6 separate regions of the Homo sapiens genome follow, and regions 1, 3, 4, 5 and 6 are each reported to be linked to region 2. The links are microRNA targets in miRTarBase. Many come from high-throughput screens and were not tested one by one. Region 2 holds a microRNA gene; each other region holds the end of a gene's coding sequence.

The links. The annotated mature microRNA hsa-miR-6088 reads AGAGAUGAAGCGGGGGGGCG and lies in region 2 at 2,820-2,839, shown strand. An mRNA with a match to its seed (bases 2 to 7 or 8) in the 3' UTR can be bound and repressed. Matches are read on the target gene's strand: a 7mer-m8 pairs with bases 2 to 8, a 7mer-A1 pairs with bases 2 to 7 and ends in A, and an 8mer does both.
Region 1: miRTarBase lists LRIT3 as a target of hsa-miR-6088. Seed matches in the 3' UTR shown: 7mer-A1 at 2,537-2,543 and 7mer-A1 at 2,491-2,497.
Region 3: miRTarBase lists PAPPA as a target of hsa-miR-6088. Seed matches in the 3' UTR shown: 8mer at 2,521-2,528.
Region 4: the mRNA of GGA2 is a reported target of hsa-miR-6088. Seed matches in the 3' UTR shown: 7mer-m8 at 3,416-3,422 and 7mer-m8 at 2,910-2,916.
Region 5: the mRNA of STOX2 is a reported target of hsa-miR-6088. Seed matches in the 3' UTR shown: 7mer-A1 at 3,386-3,392 and 7mer-A1 at 107-113.
Region 6: the mRNA of TFPI is a reported target of hsa-miR-6088. Seed matches in the 3' UTR shown: 7mer-A1 at 2,205-2,211.

The regions. Positions count from the first base shown.
Region 1 is chr4:109,870,464-109,874,463 of GRCh38, reverse strand. It overlaps LRIT3 (leucine rich repeat, Ig-like and transmembrane domains 3), which reads right to left. Exons shown (of 4, transcript NM_198506.5): 4 at 2,149-4,000. The coding sequence ends at 3,675. Among named protein-coding and RNA genes, the nearest start is that of LRIT3, 24 kb to the right of the region's middle.
Region 2 is chr19:45,433,835-45,437,942 of GRCh38, forward strand. MIR6088 (microRNA 6088) reads left to right here and starts at 2,820; the gene lies at 2,820-2,870. It also overlaps a transcript of ERCC1 not described here.
Region 3 is chr9:116,395,830-116,399,925 of GRCh38, forward strand. It overlaps PAPPA (pappalysin 1), which reads left to right. Exons shown (of 22, transcript NM_002581.5): 22 at 680-4,096. The coding sequence ends at 787. It overlaps PAPPA-AS1 (PAPPA antisense RNA 1), which reads right to left. Exons shown (of 1, transcript NR_103711.1): 1 at 2,328-4,096. Among named protein-coding and RNA genes, the nearest start is that of PAPPA-AS1, 2.7 kb to the right of the region's middle. RefSeq lists an enhancer at 1-106.
Region 4 is chr16:23,463,894-23,467,985 of GRCh38, forward strand. It overlaps GGA2 (golgi associated, gamma adaptin ear containing, ARF binding protein 2), which reads right to left. Exons shown (of 17, transcript NM_015044.4): 17 at 1-3,807. The coding sequence ends at 3,697. Among named protein-coding and RNA genes, the nearest start is that of COG7, 13 kb to the left of the region's middle.
Region 5 is chr4:184,016,665-184,020,764 of GRCh38, reverse strand. STOX2 (storkhead box 2) reads right to left here. Exons shown (of 4, transcript NM_020225.3): 4 at 1-3,676. The coding sequence ends at 3,481. Among named protein-coding and RNA genes, the nearest start is that of STOX2, 110 kb to the right of the region's middle. RefSeq lists an enhancer at 3,078-3,577.
Region 6 is chr2:187,463,666-187,467,773 of GRCh38, forward strand. It overlaps TFPI (tissue factor pathway inhibitor), which reads right to left. Exons shown (of 8, transcript NM_006287.6): 7 at 4,088-4,108; 8 at 565-3,377. The coding sequence ends at 3,271. The region is part of intron 2 of CALCRL-AS1 (CALCRL and TFPI antisense RNA 1); the gene reads left to right. Among named protein-coding and RNA genes, the nearest start is that of CALCRL, 17 kb to the left of the region's middle. RefSeq lists a silencer at 1,223-1,423.

The DNA.
Region 1 (4,000 bases), not on the chromosome of region 2:
GGAATAGCTTCTGTCACGTCTGCCTGCTCTGGGCCCAGAGTCCCACCTGACTGTGCTTCCTGGAGAAGCTTGACAGGATCTTTAAGTAATGAAATCAATCTTCCCATCTTTGGAGATAGCTGCCAGCTGTTGTATTCTTGGCCTGTGAATTGTAGACCCTTCCTGTTCAGTACGCACACCACAGCCAGGTGGCACTTTTCCTGTTGGGCCTCTGCATCAGGTGTTTGAGCAGGCTTCGAATTTCTGCTTGTGTCAAAGGGCCTACAGTAGTACCCCCTTATTTGAGGTTTTGTTTTCCACGTTTTCAGATACCCAACTTCAACCACAGTCCGAAAATTTTTAATGGAAAATCTACAAATAAACAATTCATAAATTTTAAGTTGATCTTGGAGGTGGTCCAGTCAAGCTAGAGTTTCAGGTTTTGTCCGTTTCAGATGGCTGCCAAATGCAAGTAGGGCTCTTGAGTGTTTCCAGGAGGTGTGGCTGTGAGTTGTCTGATGAAATATTTTGCCATCCTGCTCCGTCCCACCCAGGACATAAGTCATCACTTTGTCTGGAGGATCCACACCATGCACTCCCTGCCCATCAGTCACTTAGAAGCCGCCGTGGTTATCAGATGGACTGTCGTGGTATCACGGTGCTTGCATTCCAGTAACCCTTATTTTACTTGACAGTGGTCCCAAAGCACAAGAATAGTGACGCAGGCAACTTGGATATGCCAAAGAGAAGCTGTAAAGTGCTTCCTTTACGTGAAAAGGTGCAAGTTCCTGACTTAATAAGGTAAAAAACAGAAAAACAAAAAACCCTCATATGCTTCTATGAAGCGTAAGAAACCCTCATAGGTTTCTAAAGATTTAAGGTAAGAATGCATCTTCTATCCATAAGAATTTTCTTAGTCTGTTTTCTGTGGTCATAACAGAATAGACAGGCATAAGGGAGAGTCACCAGAACAGGACACTGAGTAATTTATAAAGAAGAGAGGTTTACTTTGGCTTACAATTCTGGAGGCCTAGGAGTCAAAGATCTGCCCACTATATCTGGTCAGCTTCCAGTGAGGCCTCTGCCATGTCACAGCATGGCAGAGAAGTGGAAAAGGAAGTGAGTGTGCCAAAGGGAGCCAAGGCAAGGAAGAACCTCACTTTGTAACAACCAGCTCTGACAGTTACTAACCGAGTCCTGCTAGACAGAGTGCTTGCTTTGGGATCCGAGATTAGTTCTTCCTCACCCTCGCTGTTTGCGGAGGTGGCAGCTGCTTTCTTAACTGTGTCCAGGTGGTGACTGGCAATGCCTGTGGTGCTGCTGGGGGTAATCTGGTGCACTCAGGATGATCACAGCTCACAGGCCTCCAGGTCAGCCAGGTGCAGAGTGGCAACTCTGAGGTGAGCCCCTATGATTTGGATGTGCTGCTCATGGGCTGCTGCTGGCAGCACCCAGCAGGCATTGTAGGGGGTGGTAAAGCCCTGGAGAAGCCGCACTGTCTCACTGGGAGCATGCAGAGGAACAGGGATGGCAGCAACATGCCCGTTGGTGATTTGGTGACTTTGCTAACGGCATTAGACCGGGGTATGTTGGAGAAGTCTCTTTCCCCAGTTGGCAGACAACAGATAAGCTTTCTGTGGAGAAGATGTACTTGAGCCTTCTTGGTCTATGGGGTCATGATGCCAGGACCTTTGGGGACGAGGAGCTCCTCTCCCACAGCTGAGGCTAGAAACATACCAGCTGGTGGTTGGCTCTTCAAGCCCAGGGTGTCCCCCAGCCTACAGCATTCCTACCACCCTCCTCCTAGAAGCCCACCTTCCTGTGGGACCAGAGTGGTCTTAAAAGTAATTTTGGCAAATTTTACCTGGTGGTGACCTCCAAAACAGAGGCACAAAGTAAAGATAGAAGGCAGCAACACATGTGAAAACAGAACAAAAACTGCCAGACCCACTGTAGAGTGTTCCTCAGACCTCACCCAATCTCTCGATCAGAGCCAGGCCCTGGCCACTCTCCCTTGATCCTCCTGTAGAAATGGGTGTCATCACTCATTGGCTTACTCAAATTTCATCCTCACTGCTAGTTGTGTTCTGAGGTTTTGGGTGGTCCCAGCTAGCCAGCTTCACAAGGGTGATTTATCCCTGTCATCAAAGATGAGTCTTAGACACCATCTAATGCTCAAGTAGTTTATTCCAGCAGTGCTCTTACAAGACAGAAAGCAGGAGCTGGCTGGTGTCATAGGCCGGATATAGTCAGAGGTCAGATGACCAACTGACTAGGAGAGCTTCTATTTGAGGACCGTTCTCAGAGTTTGGGAGATCTTTCCCATTTCTTATACATGTATTCAGTCTGGGTCAATTACCAAGTGTTTCTTTCATAGAGCAAGTTTAATCTAGTAAGGTTAGGCTTTGTTCTAAAATTTATGAAAGTTGCATCTGTGCTGAGGTGGCCTTGTCTTCTGGAAATCCCTAGGCCAGGTTGCATCCTGCTAAGTGACATGTAATATCACCACTGTGAGATGCTTGAGTGGGCCTTATCGCTATCGTTAATCTTAAAGCCATGAGATGTTTCTTGTAGTATACTACAGTTATTAAAATATTCTCTTTCTAAAAAAACTAAATTTTATTTGTGAACTCCTTTCCTATGTATTTAAGTTCCCCGATGTTTTTAACCTAGGAAAAGAATCTAACCAAATGAATCCACTGAAGCTTCCCTTTTAAAGTCCTAAAATATCCTTTGGGGTTGTAAAACAGACTTTCAAAGGGCAGTAAGTAATTTCAAAAGCTTTCTCTTTATCAAGAGAATCAAAAGACAATATGGCAAAAGACAAACAGCTTGGCTCGTGATGCTTTGGCTACTTGTATATCTTCTGACAGAGCAGAAGAAAGAAAGAATGAAGGAAGGAAAGGGAGGGAAGACAAGGAAGGAAGAAAGAAGGGAGAACATAAGAGCAAACAGCAAAATATTAAAAGATTGATTTAAAGTTATTTTTAAATATCCATATAATCTGTCAGTCGATGTGTTTAAATGCAACAGTTACCATTTTTAAAGAAATGGTCTATTTGTCATAATCCTCTTTGTATACTTACTTTTGCTAATACCTATATTTCTAAAGAAAAGCAAAAATTTTTCTTACAAGAAATATGAACACAACTCTATAGTATCACAATGCATAATGGTACCAAGAGACAGAGCCCTCTCTCTCCCGTGAGTTAGATTTAACCTTAGTGAACACAAAATCCTTTATGATCCCACGCTCTCCATTAGGCAATGTCAGAAAACATCCACAGCAAATGCTATAATGCACTTCGAACATGAATAAACATCAAGGCTTAGCTGGTTTTGCTAATGTTTCCTCATGACTCAAAAAACTATATTTTTAAATACAGAGTTCACTTGCTACTTTCACATGAACTTATTTTTAAGAACTAAAACATTACCCTAAAAAGTATTAATAATTTATTAAGCACCACTCTAAAAATTATTTCTGTAGACCTTTTCCACACAAGAAAAAAAATCAACATTATTTGTCTTTTCAGTTCAGAGGTCTCATGGTATTTTTTAAACATACTTAAAAGCATTCCATTTGTGATTTTCATGTACAATGTGAAAGTCTGTCCAAAAGTCATCCAAACCTAGGGTCAATTATACCCTTAGATGCTAGTTTTGTAGCTCACATGCACCTGAGCTGCAGAACCTTAGCAATAATACTCTGGTCTGGAACCTTCACTTTTAAAAGTCACCTGAGATTCCACACTTGACCTAGAACAAAGCAGCAATTTCTCTGAGTCATCCCTGTGGCTTCGTGTCCAGAGCTCACCTACACTTTGAGACCTGGGAAACAGGGTCTCAAATTGGATATAAGTCTCCTTTGCCAAATCATCTTCCCAAAAAGGTTCTGATTTACATTGCAGTTTGCAAACTTTGTACAACAAGAAACAAATCAATGGTAAGATAACAACACAGGCAGTACTGGTCACCACGAGAAGGAGAGACCATTGAGAATCATCTCCTTCAACTCTTT
Region 2 (4,108 bases):
ATTTAAGGAGAGACCTGGCTGGGCACAGTGGCTCACACCTGTAATCCCAGCACTTTGGGAGGCCAAGGTGGGTGGATCACGTGAGGTCAGGAGTTCGAGACCATCCTGGCTAACATGGTGAAACCCCGTCTCTACTAAAAATACACGCACACAAAAATTAGTCAGGCATGGTGGCATGCGCCTGTAGTCCCAGCTACTCGGGAGGAGGCTGAGGCAGGAGAATCACTTGAACCCGAGAGGCAGAGGTTGCAGTGAGCCGAGATTGTGCCACTGCACTCCAGCCTGGCCAACAGCAAGAATGTCTCACACACACACACACACAAAAAAAAAAAAAAAAAAAAAGAGGAAGAAGAAGAAGAGACCTGTCCATGTGCCCTGGCTCACACCTGTAATCCCAGCACTTTGGGAAGCTAAGGCTGGCAGATCGCTTGAGCCCAGGAGTTTGAGACCAGCCTGGGCAACATGGTGAAACACCGTGTCTCTCCAAAAAATACAAAAAAAAAAAAAATCGCATGGCTTGGTGGCATGTGCCTGTAGTCCCACGTACTCGGGAGGCTAAGGTGGGAGGATCACTTGAGCCCAAAAATGTCAAGGCTGCAGAGGGCCATGATCATGACAATGCACTCCAGCCTGGGCAACTGAGTAAAGCCCTATCTCAAAAAAAAGAAAAGAGAATCTATCTGGCAGTTTTCTCTCTTGCCTTCCAATCGTTGCATCTCATTTATTTTTCTTGTCTTACAGCATTTTTTTGTTTTTGCTTTTGTTTTCCGAGACTGAGTCTTGCTCTGTCACCCAGGCTGGAGTGCAGTGGTACGACCTCAGCTCACTGCAACCTTCGCCTCCCGGGTTCAAGCAATTCTCCTGCCTCAGCCTCCCGAGCAGCTGGGACTACAGGCGAACATTGCCACACCCGGCCTTTTTTAAAAATTTTTTTATTTTTATTTTTATTGTTTTTTTTGAGACAGAGTTTCGCTCTTGTTGCCCAGGCTGGAGTGCAATAGTGCGATCTTGGCTCACTGCAACCTCTGCCTCCTGGGTTCAAGCGATTCTGCTGTCTCAGCCTCCTGAGTAGCTGGGATTACAGGCATGCACCACCACGCCCGGCTAATTTTTTGTATTTTTTTTTTTAGTAGAGATGGGGTTTTTCCACGTTGGTCGGGCTGGTCTCAAACTCCTGACCTCAGGTGATCCACCTGCTTCAGCCTCCCAAAGTGCTGCAATTACAGGCATGAGCCATGGTGCCTGGCCAAATTTTTGTATTTTTAGTAGAGACGGGGTTTCCCCATGTTGGCCAGGCTGGTCTCAGACTCCTGACTTCATGATCCATCCACCTTGGCCTCCCAAAGTGCTGGGATTACAGGCATGAGCCACTGTGCCAGGCCCATTTTACAGCATTTCAAACACTTCCAGGACTATGCCGCACAGTAACATTGATTCTCACAGCAGCCCTCCACACTACAACCCTCTGAGATGACTTATCTCACCATGCCCATTTTACAGAGGGAGAAACTGAGGCACAGGGAAGGTAGACTCTTATCCAAGGCCACATAGCAGGTAAACAAACAAACTAGGACTCCAACCAAACCTTGTGCTCTGTCTCAGCCTTAAAAGAAAACTCAATAAACATTCTGGCCTTTTTGTTTTTGTTTTGAGACCTTTATTCTGTTACGCAGGTTGGAGTGCAGTGTGGTGATCACAGCTCACTGCAGCCTCAAACTCCTAGGCTCAAGCAAACCTCCTACCTCAGCCTCACAAGTAGCTGGGACTATAGGTGTGCACCGCCAGAGCTGGCTATTTTTGTGTAGAGATGGGGTCTCGCTATGTTGCCCAGGCTGCTGATCTCAAACTGCTGGCCTCAAGGGATCCTCCTGCCTTGGACTCCCAAAGTGTTGGGATTACAGGTGTGAGCCTCCATGTTCAGTCCACATTCTGTACTTTTTTTTTTAGATGGAGTCTCACTCTGTCACCCAGGGTGGAGAGCAGTGGCGCAATCTTGGCTCACTGCAACCTCTGCCTCCCGGATTCAAGCGATTCTCTCAAGTCTCAGCCTCCCAAGTAGCCGGGAGTACAGACATGTACCACCATGCCCGGCTAATATTTTTTGTATTTTTAGTAGAGACGGGGTTTCACCATGGTGGCCAGGTTGGTCTTGAACTCCTGACCTCAGTTGATCTGCCCACCTCATCCTCCCAAAGTGCTGAGATTACAGACATGAGCCACCGTGCCCAGCCTATTTTTTTTAAAACGGGAAAAATATCTGTAAATTGCCACAGTGACCCACGGAGCCTGGATGAAGAGCGGGAAGCCTGAGGTCTCCTTCAGTCTCCATCCTCTCTCTGAGCCTCAGTTTCCTTCCCTATGTGGAAGGGTTGGAAAAGATGTTCTCTAAAAGCCTCAGAAACTCTGCCGTTAGCGTGGAGGGGACAGAAGCTCAAACAGATTGCATTAGTTTCTTAACGGCTACTATAACAAATTATCCCCAATTCAGTGACTTAAAACAAGAGAAATTCGGCCGGGCGCCGTGGCTCACGCCTGTAATCCCAGCACTTTGGGAGGCCGAGGCGGGCGGATCACGAGGTCAAGAGATCGAGACTATCCTGGTCAACATGGTGAAACCCTGTCTCTACTAAAAATACAAAAAATTAGCCGGGCATGGTGGCGGGCGCCTGTAGACCCAGCTACTCGTGAGGCTGAGGCAGGAGAATGGCGTGAACCCAGGAGGCGGAGCTTGCAGTGAGCCGAGATCACGCCACTGCACTCCAGCCTGGGTGACAGTGAGACTCCGTCTCAGACAAACAAACAAACAAAAATAGTTTTGTAGAGATGAAGCGGGGGGGCGGGGTCTTGCTCTATTGCCTACGCTGATCTCAAACTCCTGGCCTTGACATTGCAATCTGCCCGCCTTGGCCTCCCAAAGGGCTGAGATTACGAGTGTGAGCCACCCTGGCCTAAACATTTAAAACGACATGTGTGACAGCCAGGCATGGTAGCCTGCACTTGTAATCCCAGCTCCTTGGAAAGCTGAGGTGGGAGGACCCCGTGAGACCAAGAGTTGGAGATCAACCTGGGCCATACAGTGAGACTCCATATATAGTGGATTCCAATATAGTGAGACTTTAAAATATAAAATAAGGGCCGGGCATAGTGGCTCACGCGTGTAATCCCAGCACTTTGGGAGGCCAAGGTGGGTGAATCACCTGAGGTCAGGAGTTCGAGACCAGCCTGACCAACATGGTGAAACCCCATCTCCACTAAAAATACAAAATTAGCCAGGCGTTGTGACACACGCCCGTAATCCCAGCTACTCAGGAGGCTGAGGGAGGAGAATCGCTTGAACCCAGGAGGCAGAGGTTGCAGTGAGCCTTGATCACGCCACTGCACTTCGGCCTGGGCGACAGGAGCAAGACTTCATCTCAAAAAAGAAAAAGAAAATATATATGTGTGTGTGTATATATATATATAATAAGTAAAAATAAAATCGTACATATGGATCTAGCAGACTCATATACCTCTGGTTATATTTCCAAAGGAATTGAAATCAGGATGTCGAAGGGTTATCTACACTCTCAAGTTCATTGCAGCACTGGTCACAATAGCCAAGATATGGAGTCAACCTAAGTGTCCATCAAGGGACATAATGGATAAAGCAAATGTTGCATATACACACGATGGAATACTATACAGCCTTGAAAAGGGAGGAAATTCTGCCATTCAAGACAACATGGATGGAACTGGAGGACATTATTCTAAGTGAAATAAACCAGACACAGAAAGACAAACACCACATGATCCCACTTTTATATGGAATCTTAAAAAGTCGAGCTCATAGAAACAGTATAAAGGTGGCTACTAGAGTCCAGGGAAGTGGGAGAGGGTTGGGAAAAGAGAAGATGTTGATCAAAGGGTGCAAAGTTTCAGCGAGACTGGAGAAATATATTTCAGTGATCTATTGCACAGCATGGTAACCACAGTTAATACTAATGTATTGTGTATTTCAAAGTTGCTAAAATAGAGTTTAAATTTTTTAAATTTGTAAATATTATTTTTTATTTTTTGTCACTACGTGTTCTCATCTGATTTTTTTTTTTTTTGAGACGGAGTCTCGCTC
Region 3 (4,096 bases), not on the chromosome of region 2:
AGACATGCTTTTTGTTTTCATCATTGCCTACTAAAGTCAAAGTGACCAGTATGTGCAGAGACTTATGTTTTCTCAAAAGACACTTCCACATCCTTTCTTTCACTTGATCACTTATACATCAGATATTCCATTACACAGTTCTATTAATCAACTTTGCTACAGTGCACGACAATTTTCCACCCATGATTTTACTCAGCTCCTATAGTTTAAAATACAAAGTGGGTCTTATTATATCAGCTCTACATAGGGACCTGAGGCTCTGAGATAAGTAAGTAGCTTGTTTTACTTTAAATACCAGACTTGACACTTATTATTACTTTTGGCAAATTCTTATTCCTTTCTGAGCTTCAGTTTCCCCATCAATAAAAGGGTGATTGTTGCAGCATCTGTCTTATAGAGTTGTCAAAAGTGTTTTCTTGTTTGGAAATCACTGAGTACATTGCCTTACCCCATAGCAAATGCCTGACCCATAGCAAGTGCCTCTGCAAATGAAAACTGCTGTGATTATGATCATGGTGTGCTCGATAAAAGTTATCACCAGGATAGCAAGAAGCAGAGCCATAACTTGAACTTGAACCTTCTGCTCCTCAAATCCAGTGATTGTATCCCTGCGCTGCACTGCCTTTCTGATCATTACTGCTTCAGACCAAATCACCTGATTCACTTCTTCTTTCTGCAGGTCACCCCATTCCCTATGTCCTGTGATCTACAAGGTGACTGTGCTTGTCGGGACCCCCAGGCCCAAGAACACAGCCGGAAAGACCTCCGGGGATACAGCCATGGCTAAGGAAGGACAAGAAGTTGTCAAAGAATTCCCAACGCCAGGACCCACATCCCTTTGGTATTGATTTCACAGTCAGCTGCTCAACGGAATGGCCTCTCCACACCAGGGATCCTTAGCACCCAACCGGTCTGCCTTTAATTTTACCCAGGAAGGACTCACATTGGGGCGAATGAACCAAGTTTCGCCATGCTGGATGATGAAATGGATTCCCATCCCAAAGTCTGAGATGGATTGCATATACAGTGTGCAGTCCCAGAGCCTCCTAAAATTCTAGCCATTTGTCACACAACCACAGCAAGAAACGTGTTCTATATCTAGAGTGTGCCCATCTGTGTTTAGTACACATGCATGCATACACACCCATACAAACATCTGTGTGAGGGCAGTTCTGGAGATGAGCAGAGAGAGACCGGAATAAACTCAATCTTTTCTTTCCCAAGCTCCTAGCCAACACTATCCTTGGGAGAAAGAAATTTGCAGAAACTGCTAAGACCAAGTGTGGAGATGTCAAGCTAGTTCACACTCTGAGGCTCAGAATATGTAGGACATGCACAATTGTGCAGTCCTTTGGGATTGGAAGTGAAACAGTCTGTGATCCCCTACCTTCTAGGGAACTAGGACCTAGGAAGAGGTAAAGATTATCAGGTATGCAAAGCGCCCCAATTCTTCTGCTGCCATGGGGGATTTTACCCCAACTCCAGGGTTCGAGGCCAATCTGAGAATGGCTTAGGATTGCAATGTCAAGGTATTATATCAGCCCCTTGCTTGAGGCTTGAGGTCATAATATCCCTCTAGGACTTACCTGTTCCCCCAGATCTTGCCTTGGGACCACATTTGCTGCTACTTTTCCTGCTGCTCTATCCTATACATTGAATAATCCAAGATGGTAGAACTAGGTTAGGAAAAATTCCACACAACCAAACAGTCTGCCTTAAAAGTGACCCACATTTTTCCATAGCTCCTCACTTTTTAGCCCTTCTGCAAGAGAAAAACCCTCATGGGTCCACATGGTGAGAAGTTAAGTTTCCTGTAAGTGGGCCTCTCACCCTGGAAAGGAGTTGAGGGACATCAGATGCTGGAACCCTCACTGAAAGTCCAGAATGTCTAAGCCAGTGTTAGATTTTGTAAACAAGTGGAACAGTGTTAAATTTCTATGATGTTGGAGCCATCCAGAGACTACTGGAATTGTCGAGACTTTTGGATTATTATCCTTATCCTTATCCTAATCTTCCTAGCCCTTCAGGCTAGAGTAGGCTTTGATCCTGAGAACCTTGCTGTTGCTCTGAGGAGATATAATTCTGGGAGAAAGAATCTTTTATAAGAACAGTACAGATTGTTCTCAAGAGGGCCATCAGAAGGAAGCCAAAGAGTTCACAGCCTCAGCACCAACAACTCAACATGGTCATCATGTTTTCTATATGGTTTTTCCAGCTAGCAGTACTCCCTTCCATACCTGTGACTGGGCAGTGCTTTTCTCTCTCCCATGTCTAGCCTCCAAAAGTTAAGTGAAAATTAGTCAACTGCACGTGGAAGCCCCCACCACTTTGGGGATCTCTTTATTTCTTTTCAGCCAGGGACCTGTCCACTCCCTTTGAATTAATATGGGAAGAAATTAATACAGGATGAACTGGAGAGAAGGGTTGAGTGTGGCATACTTTCTGAAACCTGGAGCTGGGAATTGCGGAGAAGGGAAGGTCTAGACTAGTTACATCACATAGGGATTACTGTAAATCAAGTCATCTCAAGTCTAGTGAAGACAGCCAACAGAAACAAAACCTAGCATAGGGATAGAAAATACCATGCACGTGTGCAGCCCCACCTAATTCCTGCATCCAAGGCAGGTGTTGTTAATCTATCATAGCACTTAAAAAAAAAAAAAAAAAGAGACCAAAAATAACTTTAGGAACCACCATATTATATCACTCCCAATAGCACTGACCTGGTGATCAAAAACACTTGAGAAGACATCTATTGGCCATCTCTGGCCAATTACACTAAGAAACATATCAAGGTGCTTTTGGCACAGGTGCCCACAAATACGGATGCAGTGCTGAGATAGTTTATGAGACTTGTACCATTTCACAAACTCTGAAATTGGGTTCCATATTGGCAAGGCTGCCACAGTTGTTAAGAATAATCCTCTATGTTTCTTCCTCACAAAACCATATCTCATTTATATCCAGACCATTACTTCACTATAATTACAAGGACAAATTATTAGCAAGAAATAAGAATAGTATTAGAAGAATTGATCCTATTTTGAACCCCTCTCCAGTATCTTCACACTCTTGTCAACTCTCCAGGCCTCTCTCTTGCCCTGAGTTATCAGCCTGTGTGGTGTTAACTACCTTAGAAGGTACAAGCTAAGAAATGTAACAGTATCAACCCTCCCAGTTGCTTAATTATACCCATAGGTAATACAAAAAGCTCTGAAGACCCAAAGATGACATTACTAATGATGTGATTTCAGGAGCCACAGAAGAACCTTACCAGCTTCCCTCAAATCAGTCCTTATCCTCTTTCTATCTTCACTCCCATCATCATCTATTTTCACACTATCCAGCTAAGCAAAGATTCCTGGAGGCTGACTTGTATCTTCAGACTCACAGAGTGAATTCAGCTCTTCTGAATCAAGACCCACCCAGTCTCTTTCATTCAGACCTGTTGCTAACAAATTTATATTTGCCAAGGATATTAGGCAAAAGAGGCTACTTGATTGGTGGCCAACCTCGTGCCCACATGGAAGGTATCTTTAATAGGGTCTTTTCAAACCTTAGTGGAGGAGGGTCAGCTCAATTTGGGCAATGCATTTGTTCCCAGTTTCATTTTCTTCCTGGGAATTAACTCGTCATTTCATTCCTTCAGTCATCTTCTGTGTAGGTGACCGGAGCACTGAGAGGCAGCTCTGATGCACTATTGTGTGTCAGCAGCTCAAAGGCCCTAAAACACTGAAGGTTCTGCATCTGAAGTATTAGATTGTTAGCAGCAAAATATGAAAGATGAGGTGGACAGTCCTCTAAGCCCTATTTAGGGAAGCTTTTCCAAGCCACAATCTTAACTACCTACCCAAAGGATTTGCATTACCCCCAGATTCTGTGCCAACAACCTTTTAAGGAAATACAGTCCTTGGGAAATGAGTTTTGATGGTGAATTGGGGTGTTAAGGAAGGGAAAGATTGTCATAGATGGTAGGGCTTTGAAAATGCAGGGTATCAGCTGCCACTCCTGGCTTCAACACATTGAGTCACTGCCTAGACGGTTCTCTTGGTCTTATTCCCATCCTGGCCAATGCTTAAATACTATTTGTTGAAAA
Region 4 (4,092 bases), not on the chromosome of region 2:
GAATTCAAGGCTGCATTGAGCTACAATCACGCCACTGCACTCCAGCCTGGGCAACAGAGCAAAGCCCTGTCTCAAGAAAACAAACAAACCCACTTTTATACTCTTGACGCTGGGTAAGCATCTTCTATAATGGGTATATTTAAAGGATTTGGGATTAATATTGTAGTAGGCAAGCACTATTTGTATTCTAGAATATTGCCCTTGCTTTCTAGCTTTAACATTTTCTGTCTCAATTTACACTATTTGTACTAGGTAATATTCACTTTTCTTTTGGTTGTCATTTATTGTTTTCAACACTATCTTCATGACCTGTTTGTGTTCAGAGTGGCTCACAGATAAGGAAACATTTTTGCCCAGTCTTAAGTTCATGGAAGATAATAGGAAGAGTAATTAACTGCAGCAAAAGGTTAGGACAAAACATGGCATTATCAGGGCTTGAAAGGACTTTATTGTGGCTGTGGTGAAGCAGGCCCTGGTCTTGGCAGATGATACCAGAAGGGCACTGAGTGCCAGCGTGCAACTTGAATTTGATCCCATAAAGTCAGGCATCAGGAAGCCATTCAGAATTTTTCACCCTGTCAGATGCTCAGATTTGCTAGAGAACTCTGGTAGTGGCAAGAACCAGAGCTGTTACTCAGAATTGGGACAGAGGCATTGTCCCAAAAAAAAAAAAGCCCAAATCAGAGCAGTGGCAATGTAAGTGCAGGGAGGACATGATGTGGGATTATTTAGAAAACAGGCCAAATGACATGCAACTACTCTGCGGATACAGACGAAGCAGGAATCAGGGACCCAATAAGTCTCAGGTGCTTTCAAGTAAGAGCATGTAGGTGGAAAGGGGCAGGACTCTGGGTTCCATTCTAAGTAACTGAGACTGAAGCAACAGTGGAACCTCCAGATACAGATAACCCCTGACAGACTGAAATACGATCTGGCGACAGCAAGGAGGTGGCAGCTTGAGAGAGGTCTACAACCCACCTAATGGTTTAGAGCCACCTGACTACCAGGCCTGTGTGTGGACGGGAAAGTCCTGAGGATTGGACTCTGGAAAACCATCACACTTAAGAGACAGAGGAAAAAGAGCAGTCACGGAGGTAGGTCACGAAATGGGTCAACAGGACCCCCGAAGAGTTCAAGATACTGGAAAGCACTGGCCATGAGTGCCAGATCTCCAGCACACACATCATGAATTTGCTTCTCCCCAGAGGAAAAGAAGCTCCTTCAGGGTGGTGCCTGGCTCAGGGTAGCTGGTCAACAACTAGCTTTTAAAAAAACAGAGACACGGTCTCACTATGTAGCCCAGGCTGGACTTGAAATCCTGGGCTCAAGCGGTCATCCCACTCAGCCTCCCAAAATGCTGGGATTATAGGCGTGAGCCACTGTGCACAGCCAATAACTACTTGTTAAGTGAATGAAGAGGTAGGAGCTGGGCTCTAAGTGGCCACTGGACTTGCTGATTAGAAGGGAGTGATGCCATAAACCACAGCCACTTTCAGGACAGCAGCCTGCCTCCTCTCCTCCTACCCCTATCCTGTCCAACACCTAAGCATAGTAGTACCACTGGGAGTCTGTCTCCTCAAAAGCAAGAATGTTCAGGTACACATGTGTGAGTTCACCTCCTAACTATAGGGGAGAAAGCCTGTCTTTATGTATAAGTCTCATTCACCCATTTTGACCAAAACCCTTCAGAGGGAGATGCTGTCATTATGATGGGTACCTCTTCAAGACTACGCAACAGTAACAGAGCCTATAAAAGCTACACAGAGGCCGGGTGCGGTGGCTCACGCCTGTAATCCCAGCACTCTGGGAGGCCAAGGCAGGCGGATCACCTGAGGTCAGGAGTTCGAGACCAGCCTGGCCAACATGGTGAAATCCTGTCTCTACTAAAAATACAAAAATTAGCTGGGCGTGCTGGCTCACGCCTGTAGTCCCAGCTACTCGAGAGGCTGAGGCACGAGAATCGCTTGAACCTGGTAGGCAGAGATTGCAGTGAGCTGAGATTATACCACCGCACTCCAGCCTGAGTGACAGAGTGAGATATGGCCTCAAAAAACAAAAAAAAGCCACACAGAATACAAGCAAGAAAGTACTTTTAGATTAAAATTCGTCTTATGTGAATTATGGCAAATGAAATCACCCCACTGTTTACCTGTTTTATGAGTTTTTACATTTGCTTAAAATTAGCATACTTGATCTTTTACAGTTCCCATCTCCACCAATTAGTATTGGCAGATTTCCACTATATGTAGAAGTCAAAAGATCAGACTGTAAAAATATCAGATATTGTAATTAAGAGCTCCAAACAAGTCTTGCAGTTTCAAAGGTAGAAACCCACCCAGCCAGTTCAGCTGCTTGGACTTCAAAGCCCTCCGCCTAGCCATCTCAGCCAGGCTCAGGTTCCTTCTCCCACCCATCAGGCCAAGCAGGACTTGTCAAACATACACATTCAAGTTCCTAGCACACAGTAGGTGCTAAGTGGGAATTGATTATAAACTTGAATTCTTCCATCAACAAATATCCACCTCTCCTGTCCAGCTTGCCTCAGATCTTCAGGTTCTCTCTTCTCTGAGGCAGCTAAGCTTCTACATCCTTCATGAAGTTTCCTTTACTTCTCGACAGAAGACAGTTCCCTTTAGGCCTATCATCTCTAAATGCAACTGGCTTTCCATTTTCCACTTACTCAACACTCCACAAAGTACACTTGCTACATGGTATTTATTCAATGACTGTATATTTAGTCACCACCTCAATCACTGCTAAGCTCTCTTCATGTCTATCTGTACCACAGTTTCCCATCTTAGACTGTGACGTCAGCTGGCAAGGGCTGGCTGTTGGCCGATTCATCATGACTGACATGGTGTGTCACAAAGAGCTCCAAGTAAATGCTGTGAAGGAAGAGGATGAGGATGGAGATGAGGATCCTGAGAAGGGCCCAGACTGGCTGCCCAACCCATGGACCTGAGGCCTGAGTAAGGCCTGGGAGCTGCTTTCCCCTCTGCCCAGGAACTCTGTCCAGGGGCGATTCTAAGGCACAGTGGTGAAGGACATGATTGGTCCCCCAAGTGTGGTCCTCAGGTCTCATGGCAGCCACTCGCCTGGGAACAGTGCAACAAGCATTCCATTTAGAAGATCTTCCAGAACACACACAAGAAGCATTGTCTAATGAAAATGGAGACAAGGTCTTTCTTGGAAGAGAGTGCCCAAGTAGATACTCTCTGCCCCAAGACTAACCAGGTCCCTTTTAAGGTCCCTGAGAACAGCAGCCTGGGAGCAACCAAGCCTTTCAAAGGCTGACAAGGCACAGAGTGGATGAATGGAACGAACGATACATGAAAAAAACACTTTGGCTGATAAAACCTCCAACCTGAGGCAGGGACAGTGTCGCTCGCTGACATGCAGAAACATGACTGTAGCAGAGATGATGATGATGAGAAATGCTTCGCATTTCCCACACTGCCGATATCCCAAGCCCTGTGCTACCACCCTCTCCCCGAACACACACACACACACACACACACACACACACACACACACACACACAGAGCATCTGCAGAATAAGTCAGAGGTTGACACCCAGAGCCTGACGTCAGGATAGGACTCTTGGCACTCCGCACTGAAACACCGTGATTAGTCCTGACTAGACAGCAAAAGTAACGCCAGCCTAAGCTTGAAATGAAGGGTCCATCTTGTGAAAAGTTAGGCTGCGCCCAAGACAGCCAGGTCTGGGAAGTCTTTCACTTCTCCTACTTCGCTGAAAGGCTGTCCACCTTGGTTGAATGTCAGCTTGTACCGTAAGCGGATAGGTTCCTGGGACAGAAGAGACAGAAGATGTCAAATCAGTGGAGAGCAACCCAGGAACAGGGGTCAATGTTAAGTCAAGTGAGTGTTTCAAACAATTCTGACACAAAATACCTGGGATACTCTCTTTGGGACTACAAACAAGGGGAAACAGGCACATATCCTGGGAACCCTTCGATAATTCTGCAGTCCTGAAATCCTGAGATGGGCTGCAATTCAGAGACCAGCTAAGGAAGACAGACCTTGTCCTTTCAGAGGACTCCAGAGGATTAGGGAGAGTTCATGTGTCCCTCC
Region 5 (4,100 bases), not on the chromosome of region 2:
AGAAGTAATTTGTTATTTTTATCCAGCTAGTCTCCATTCACCTCTTCTATTTGTTTTCTCTATTTGATGGCACCCCCCCCCCTTTCATATGTTCATTATGGTCCCCTGAGATGTGCAAAATATATATAATGGAATACAAATTATTTAACAGAAGTTGTGGAATTCACAGCACAGCTCTTTTAATTAAAGTGGAGTTTGGGCTCGACATGGTAGCATGCGAGTGAAGGCAGAGCCCGAAGTGCTTCAAGCTTGGCAGTCCACATTGCTTGTGTGTCTTCTGTTACTGAAAACTTAGACTTCAAATCAGATTTCCAAAAGAGTAAATAGCTCTTTCAATTACGTTCACCCATTGGCTCTTCGCCAGAGAACTTTTAACAGGAATGGGTGGAGGGCGGGGGTGGGCACAAGAATTTTTAAACTTCCGTTCATTCCTAACAAAATCGAGTGCGCTTTCGTGGGGAAGAGAGGAGAAGACAGGATTACATCTGAAAGCCAAACAGCGGCGTAAGAGAAAGCCATGGCGATGGAAAGTCATGAGTCCACAGAGGCAATCACTGACACACACAGCACGCCATGCCCTAATGTTGAAGGAAGTGTTCAACTTTGCTCTTCTGAACGATACACTTTAACACACGGCTGCCATTTCATCAAATTTATGGAGGTAGTTATATGTAAAAATAAAAATTACCATAAAGTAATATGTTGTATCATAATAATACATAAGTGTGCAAAATGCCGACAGATGTGTTGACCCTTTCACAGAGATTCAACCAGATTCAGTTTTGTAAACCTTTCAGCTGCTAAACCCTAAGACTGGATAAGCAGTCGTGTAACACAAAGCTATGATTTTACAGGAGGAAAGGGATACTGGCAACGCCTGGCGAGGCCCCCACTGTTCCGGGACCGAGAGCCTCACCGTGACCTCGAATGACATTTGCAATGTGCTGCCGGCTGCCACTCCTCCCCCATTCAAGAATCTCGATCAGATTCAGGCAGGAATATTTTTATATGCAACATCTGCTTACATGGTATCACCTTTAAAGTCCATCATTTCTACACTAATGGCTGCTGGTCTAAGGGAGTTTTTAAAAAATTATGTACCCCATAGCATCAGGCAAATAGTGTACATATTTATTTGAATAATGTCTTCTGTAAACCTATATCTTGTGAAATATCAATAAATTCCTATTTTAAAGCTTCTCTTAAAGGTAACGCTTTCCTTTCCTGTTCACACAGTATTCGATTATTTCAATGGCTACTTTCAGAGGATCAGCTAGAGGCTGATGTGTTGTTTCAATGGTTATATTATTTATGAACTGAGAGTAGAAGAAAAATTTGAGAGCAGGTTTTTGGAAAAAATGAATTTAGACAAATATTTAGTAACTGTATGATATATAACTCCCCAAGGGAACCAACTATGTAGTCTATTAGATACATGATCATTCCTTCTGGACATATTTAAGCAATGAGACAAACAATGCGTTGAGGCATGCCTTGGAGGAAATAAGGCATGAGACTGAAAGCCAACTGGCTTAAGCATTTCAATGGTATGGGAGTTTACTAAGAAACATGCTGAAGTTTCACTATAATAAGCAGAAAAAAGGAATTTACACCAAACTCAAGGAGTTCAGTTTGACCCAATGCAACTTCCAAATAACTGAAAAACTATGAGGGAGCATTTAAAGGTTTCAAGAATGAGTCCAACTGTGTATAGGACTGGATTCTTTAAACAGATTGCTAGTGATTAAACCTCATACAAAAACAGATGCGTCTCACAAATCATATGCCAATTACTGAAATTGGAGGTGAAAATATTCTAGATTTATTTTGGGATATATATATTTTATGGTGTATGGCTCCCAACAGCACATGCCACTGAACTAAATAAAACTTTATGTCAGAACACTTACTTGTGTCATATGTAACCCTTTTGCAAATAATATTCCATTACTACAGATCTGTCCCACTGTTCTCAGAAAATAAAACATGGGAACGTTGGAATGTCTCCTTGCTATAAGATGAAATTATTGGTCATCCCTTTGCTGCTGGGTCTTCTTTGTGTTCAACATGACATTGTAAACCAAAGCAAAATGTTAACAAACCATTTGGAAATAAGTTGGTCTAATTAACTACACATCCAGCTAAAAACGCCTCCTGAAATTGGTTACAAAGTATCTGTAAACATTACTCTGGCATAGTTCATGTATGCATAATTGTTATTCTGATAAATTTTAGGGGAGTACAAATTCGGATTATACCGCACTAGCAGAATGAGCACATTCTGTTGTTTATTACATGGGCACATGTATATTTCTAATCAAAAATTATTTTAAAAGTTTTCTCTATACATATCTTCCCAGGAATAAAAGGCCTGAAGTTCAACACTCCCTAAATTTGCTCTTTCCTACAACCACTAAAAATTATCTCCCACAGCCTAATTTAGGCATTCTATTTAAAACTACATAAAATAGATTTATGTCCTTCCATTAGAAAGAATAACATCCTCAGGCCCTACTCTTCATTTGTATCACAAAGAACATTTTGCTTTTAAACAAACTAATTATTGTATCTATTAGAGTAAGATAGGGTCATCCTAAGTATCACAAGGAGGAAATTCTCTTCCTTCAATATTTGAGTAACACCTTTTACAAGTCCACATCACCTTTTCAATCACCTAATGCTGTGCCCCAGCCAGACTGGAAATTGCTTTCCTTTGTCCACTTCAGATTCAAAGGCCTATATTCCTGTTTGTGATCACGGAAGGTTAAAAAAATCAGACAAGCATCTGTGACACTTCAAAACAAAACCCTGAAAACATTCACTCCCAGTGATCTCCATTGCGACCCCTTCTCACACACTTCCATGGGCTCCTGCAAAATAGTGTCACGAAAACTCACAGTGAAAAATGACTGGTGCATAAACAATTCACACACAAAGGGCCGGGGTCCCTTCTAGTTAGTTTGGCATCTATTTCCCTCAAGGTGGACCCTTGCATTTGACATTTCGTGGTAGCTTAGTTTTGTTTTTTGTTTTTTTTTTTTAAATTTTTTTTGTTTTGTTTTGTTTTTTTTTTTTTGGAAGTGTCAAGGATCAGTTCTGTGGCACCGTTTAACCACAGACTGGGAGCAACACGCATCTGTGGCATTTTAAAATGGAATTGGCAACTGCATGACATTGAAAATGCGTATTACACTTACAGTGTCTAGACTTTCCTATGTGTGCTCAGATACAATTAGTGAAGCAAAAGTATACATATCACCCCTACTGTTACTCAGTTGCTACAGAGCCATAAATGTGAAAAGCAATACTCTGAAATAAAGATTTTTTGTTTTTTTGCCCTAGCCCTACTTAGCAGCACAGTTTAAGTAAACACAAAAACTGTGGTTGAGATGCTTGTCTTTCCAAAGATGTAAACATCAGTCCCAGTGTCGTAAACTTTGCTGTATCGAATGAGACAGAAGATCTGAGGCAGAAGGACAATCACACGCTAGTAACAGAAGCTTGCAAGCAGTTGGAAGGTTTCTGTAGCTTCTCAGCTTCATTTGTCGGGGGCTCCGCGCTCGCTCGGAAGTTGAAGGCTGGACCAGCTCCACCATGGGCCGGGCTCAAAGCGGGGTTCTGACGACGGTTACTTTCAACAATGCTTGATGTGTTGGAAGCCAGGCTCTCCCGAGTACTAAAAGAGCAAAAAGGGTTTGTTTTGTTTTGTTTGGAACATAAATAATTATAAATTGAGCCCCAGAGGAAGAGCAAATGATGTCGTTAATGGATTTCCTCTGTTGGTTCATAATGTCATATCAATATACATCTCGACTGATTATTCACATCTGCCTCTCCACCACTGGCTCCAGAAGCTTCCACAGACATGTAATAATCAGCAGCACACTCAGTGAATAAAGGGTTTTTAAATAGCTAAATGCACTTTGAAATGTCTTCTCCTTTTTTTCACACTCAACGAAACGACTTCAAAATTTGAGGTGATAGCTAGCTATCACAGTGGTTTTTAAAACAGATACTCATAAATACACCTAAGTCATGATTTCATTTCAGGCTGGAAATTCACTGGCATAGCCGCTCCTGAACACACTCGATAATTTTAT
Region 6 (4,108 bases), not on the chromosome of region 2:
ATGTGGGGAAAGTGATTAAAGTACATCCCAGCCAAAGTCCCTGAGAAAGCACTTAAAGTCAAAAGTTGGAAACACTAAATAAAATTGCTAATTTGCTAAAAACCAGGTAAGAGCAGGAGCCGCTGATGACAGAATCAACCAACAGCCTAGTTAGCTAGTTTAGTGTCATGATTTTTTTTCTTCTGATATAGAGATGGGCTAGGCCAAATACAATAGCCAGGATAGGAAGTTATGTAATGTATAGTTATATAACATATATTTAAATATACATGTCTATATTCATACAATTGTATATGAAATGAGTGATGAAAATATATATGTAGCAGAGTAAATTTTAAATGTATAGATTGTTAGGACATAGTGTACTAATTTGTTTGACAAATAAATTATAATATATGGGTGTGTACTTGCAATTAAAAGGCAGCTATTAACAATTCCAATTTAAGGAAATAAAACCAGAGTGTGGGAACAATCATTTTTGGTCTTAAGATTTTGTACCGTTATGATAACTAATGAGCATTGAATTCTTTATGTACTAAAATCTTTACGAGTACAACAGCCAGGTTTCATTATTCAGAATAATATATTTTACTTCTTATAATGTAAAAAATATAATCGTTTGAGTGGTTTTCAGCATGATCTGTTAATTTTGAATACAGAGAATGAACAAAGCAGGTAAATATATGTATATGCTGAATAATGTAATTCCATATACAATTCACAGTTAGATGCACTTAATTGTGGAAAATAAAGGAAGACAATAACATCAAGATCTTTTTCCAAAACACGGTAAAAATAACGTTCACATGCATTAAACATTTCAAGCCATCTCAGTATATGTCTTTCTTGAGTAAGTAGTGAACCAATGGACCAGTGGTTATTGTTGGAGAAAACAATTAGGCAACTCATCAATGCGCTATTTATACAATCTTAGTGACTATTTACCACTTCACCTAAGTAGACTTTCCCACTCATTTGAAGCTATTGCTATCTATAAATAAATGGCAACAGGAAATGTTTCACAAGGGCCTTTGATTTCCAAAACTCTCAAATTCCACAGCAAAGACTCAATTTAAGGCAATTATTTATGCACTGAATATTTGAATGAAGATGTATTATTTTCCTTAAGTGAAAAAAGCTGATACTATTTTGTAATGATAAAATTTGTATACCATAGTAGAAAATGATTTGCAATTATGTGTTAGGACTTTTCATATTCCATATTGAAACATAGTGATTCTGTAGCTGGCATCAGCTGTACCCTGACTTCACATGAATGGCCTGGAGGGGATCATATTTTTAAACAGGAAATCAGTGTGAATTAGCTGAGTAATTAACATTCAGTGTACAGTGAGCATTCTTAACTAAATCAAAGTAGTCATGAAAGAAAGTACTGTTGGTAAATCCAAAAACATACATCAAAATTAAATGGTGAGGTTGAAGGTTGTAGTTAAGTACCAACTAGTGTGAGTTCTGGGAGCATTTTGAAATGGTGGAGGAATGTACTAAATTTCTGAGGAATTAATACTGATGGGAAGGATGCAGTAAAGAGTAAAAACGGGGGCATTGTGGTTTATACCTGTAATCCCAGCACTTTGGGAGGCTGGGGCTGGAAGATTGCTTGAGCCCAGGTGTTCAAGACAAGCCTAGGTAACGTGGTGAAACTCGTCTCTACAAAAATTACATAAATTAGCTGGTGTGGTGGCCTGCACCTCTAGTCCCAGCTAGGTGGGAGGTTTCAGTGTCCTGTGATTGCACCACTGCACTCCAGCCTGGGTGACAGAGTGGGACCCTGTCTAAAAAAACATAACAAAACAAAACAAAATGAAAAAAAAAAAAAAACAAGAAAAAAGAAAAGAAAAAGAAAAAAGTAAAAAGCCTAGGGATTGGGTGAACTTTTTCGAAAAAAAAAAAAAAAAGCATAAAGATTTGGAGACTGTTTAGATGTGGTATATGAGGGAAAACAGGAAATCTAAATTGAGTTCAAAATTTCAATCCTGAAGAACAGGCAGAATTATACTATCATTGTTAGCGAGAAGTCATGAAGCTATTCATGAAGCTATTCATGAAGCTAGTCATGAAGCTAGTCATACCAAATGAATGAAATGGTTGTTTCTAAATCAGTTCCAATTCCAGTGTCAGATTTGAGGTGAACACTACAGAAACTGACATGTCTTGGAGGTTGTTGAGGTTGTTGAGGTTGTTGAGATGCCAGACTGCACATGGCTCAGCAATAAATGAAAGATACAGGTCTGGATATAGTGAATTAACTCCAGCAAAATATTAAATCCCCAAGAATGACTAGCACATGAATTTTCTAGTAGACTCTTCCCTGCTGATAATTTTCTCTTCAACAGAAATAACCTACTTTTTAAAGCATGAATTATTAGTTGCATTGTGTGCAAATCCTAATGATAACTGAATAGATTTCAGAAGGTTTAAATATTTTTGTTATTTTTAGTAAGAAAAAATATTGGGAAGCATAGTATTAAGAAGTACATATAAATAATTCCCTCTCGATTGCCATAAAACTTCTTGTTTCCATAAAGGTTCTCCTTATCATGAGTTGTATTTAACACACAATTATTCAGTCATCTTGACTGATAGAATGGGCTATGGTCAAACAAAAAAAAAAGTGAAACCAATCCAAATCAGGCAGGCACATGATGCAGAGTTGACTGTTCAAAGACAGTTTAGCTCAATATAGATGGAAGTACTGGTTAGTACAAAAGGAGAAAAACTATGTCTAAGGAGGGAAGCACATAATAGAATTCTATTATTACAATAGAATACTATAAATACAAAATTGGATAAACTTTATCAGAAGCAGGTGTTTGTCACCATTTTATATGTGAAACTCAGGAAGTTCTTGATTTTTTAAGAGCTGTATTCCTTAATCTGGTTACAGGCTATAAAGGAGATAATCATTTACATGATCATATTCTCAAACAGATGGTCACCAAATGGAATCAAAGGACTGATTTGATGTAGCCGGTAGTATGATAATTTGTAGTTAAATGAAAATACAGATAGATCCAGAAAATAAGTAATTTCCCAGTAGCCAGTTAATAAATTACAGACCTAGAATAAGCAATTTAACAAGATTAGAAAAGCAACTCTGATACAAACGTGTTGATAACAAGTACAATAAGCATAGAAAATTTAATGAACATATTAATTAAAAGCATTTTAGAAGAAAAATAGAAAATCATAGTGAAACATTTCATATAAAATATTTAGTAGAATTAATGTTACATTGCTATAACAAATTCACATATTTTTAACAAAAATTTCTTCATATGCTATTTTCACTCTCTGCTTCTTTCTTTTTCTTTTGGTTTTAATTAGGCCTCCTTTTGATATTCTTTGGATGAAACCTATAAGAGGAAGAGGAATAAATTAATGTGTGATAAAATAACACAATGAAATGTTTTATCTAAAATCTTCTCAAAGTAACTTTTAATATTTAAATCCAAAAGATGTTATTGATTTAAAAGCCTTTAATTTGTCCATGTATTCGTGTAGAACAATTTATTTTTAAGGACGTTACTTTGCATATATGAGTTAATAAAAATGGATAAGCATGCCGTTCATTTTTATTATTAGTTCCTCTTCTGTTACAAATCCATGCTTGCTTTATTTTTAAATAGTAGAAATGTGGTTGTATGTGGTTGATTAAGTTACAGATAGTTTTTATTTGCATTTTTATACTCTTCTTAGTCTTTTATAAACATGCATTACTTTTATATTCAGAAGACATTAATAAATATGTTAAAATTTTGTGCATTACAAGAAAGCTTAAAACAATTTTGGTATAGTCTTTTAAAGTGAATGCTTAGTATTTGAACACTAAAAGAATAACATGTTTAATTTGTTTTAAATTGATTCTTTTTCTATGAGGACATTAAAAGAAATTACAGTTACATATCTAGCAATATTATCTAAATGTAATTGAAGAGGACATTTATTAGCTAGATTATACTTTCTTATAATAAAGATAATTAATTTCATATCTTAATAGATTATCATTTCAATTCAATTGCTATCTTAAACACTAGTCAATTAATGGGAAGAGTATCTTCTATACCTTTTTTACATGCCCTCAGAC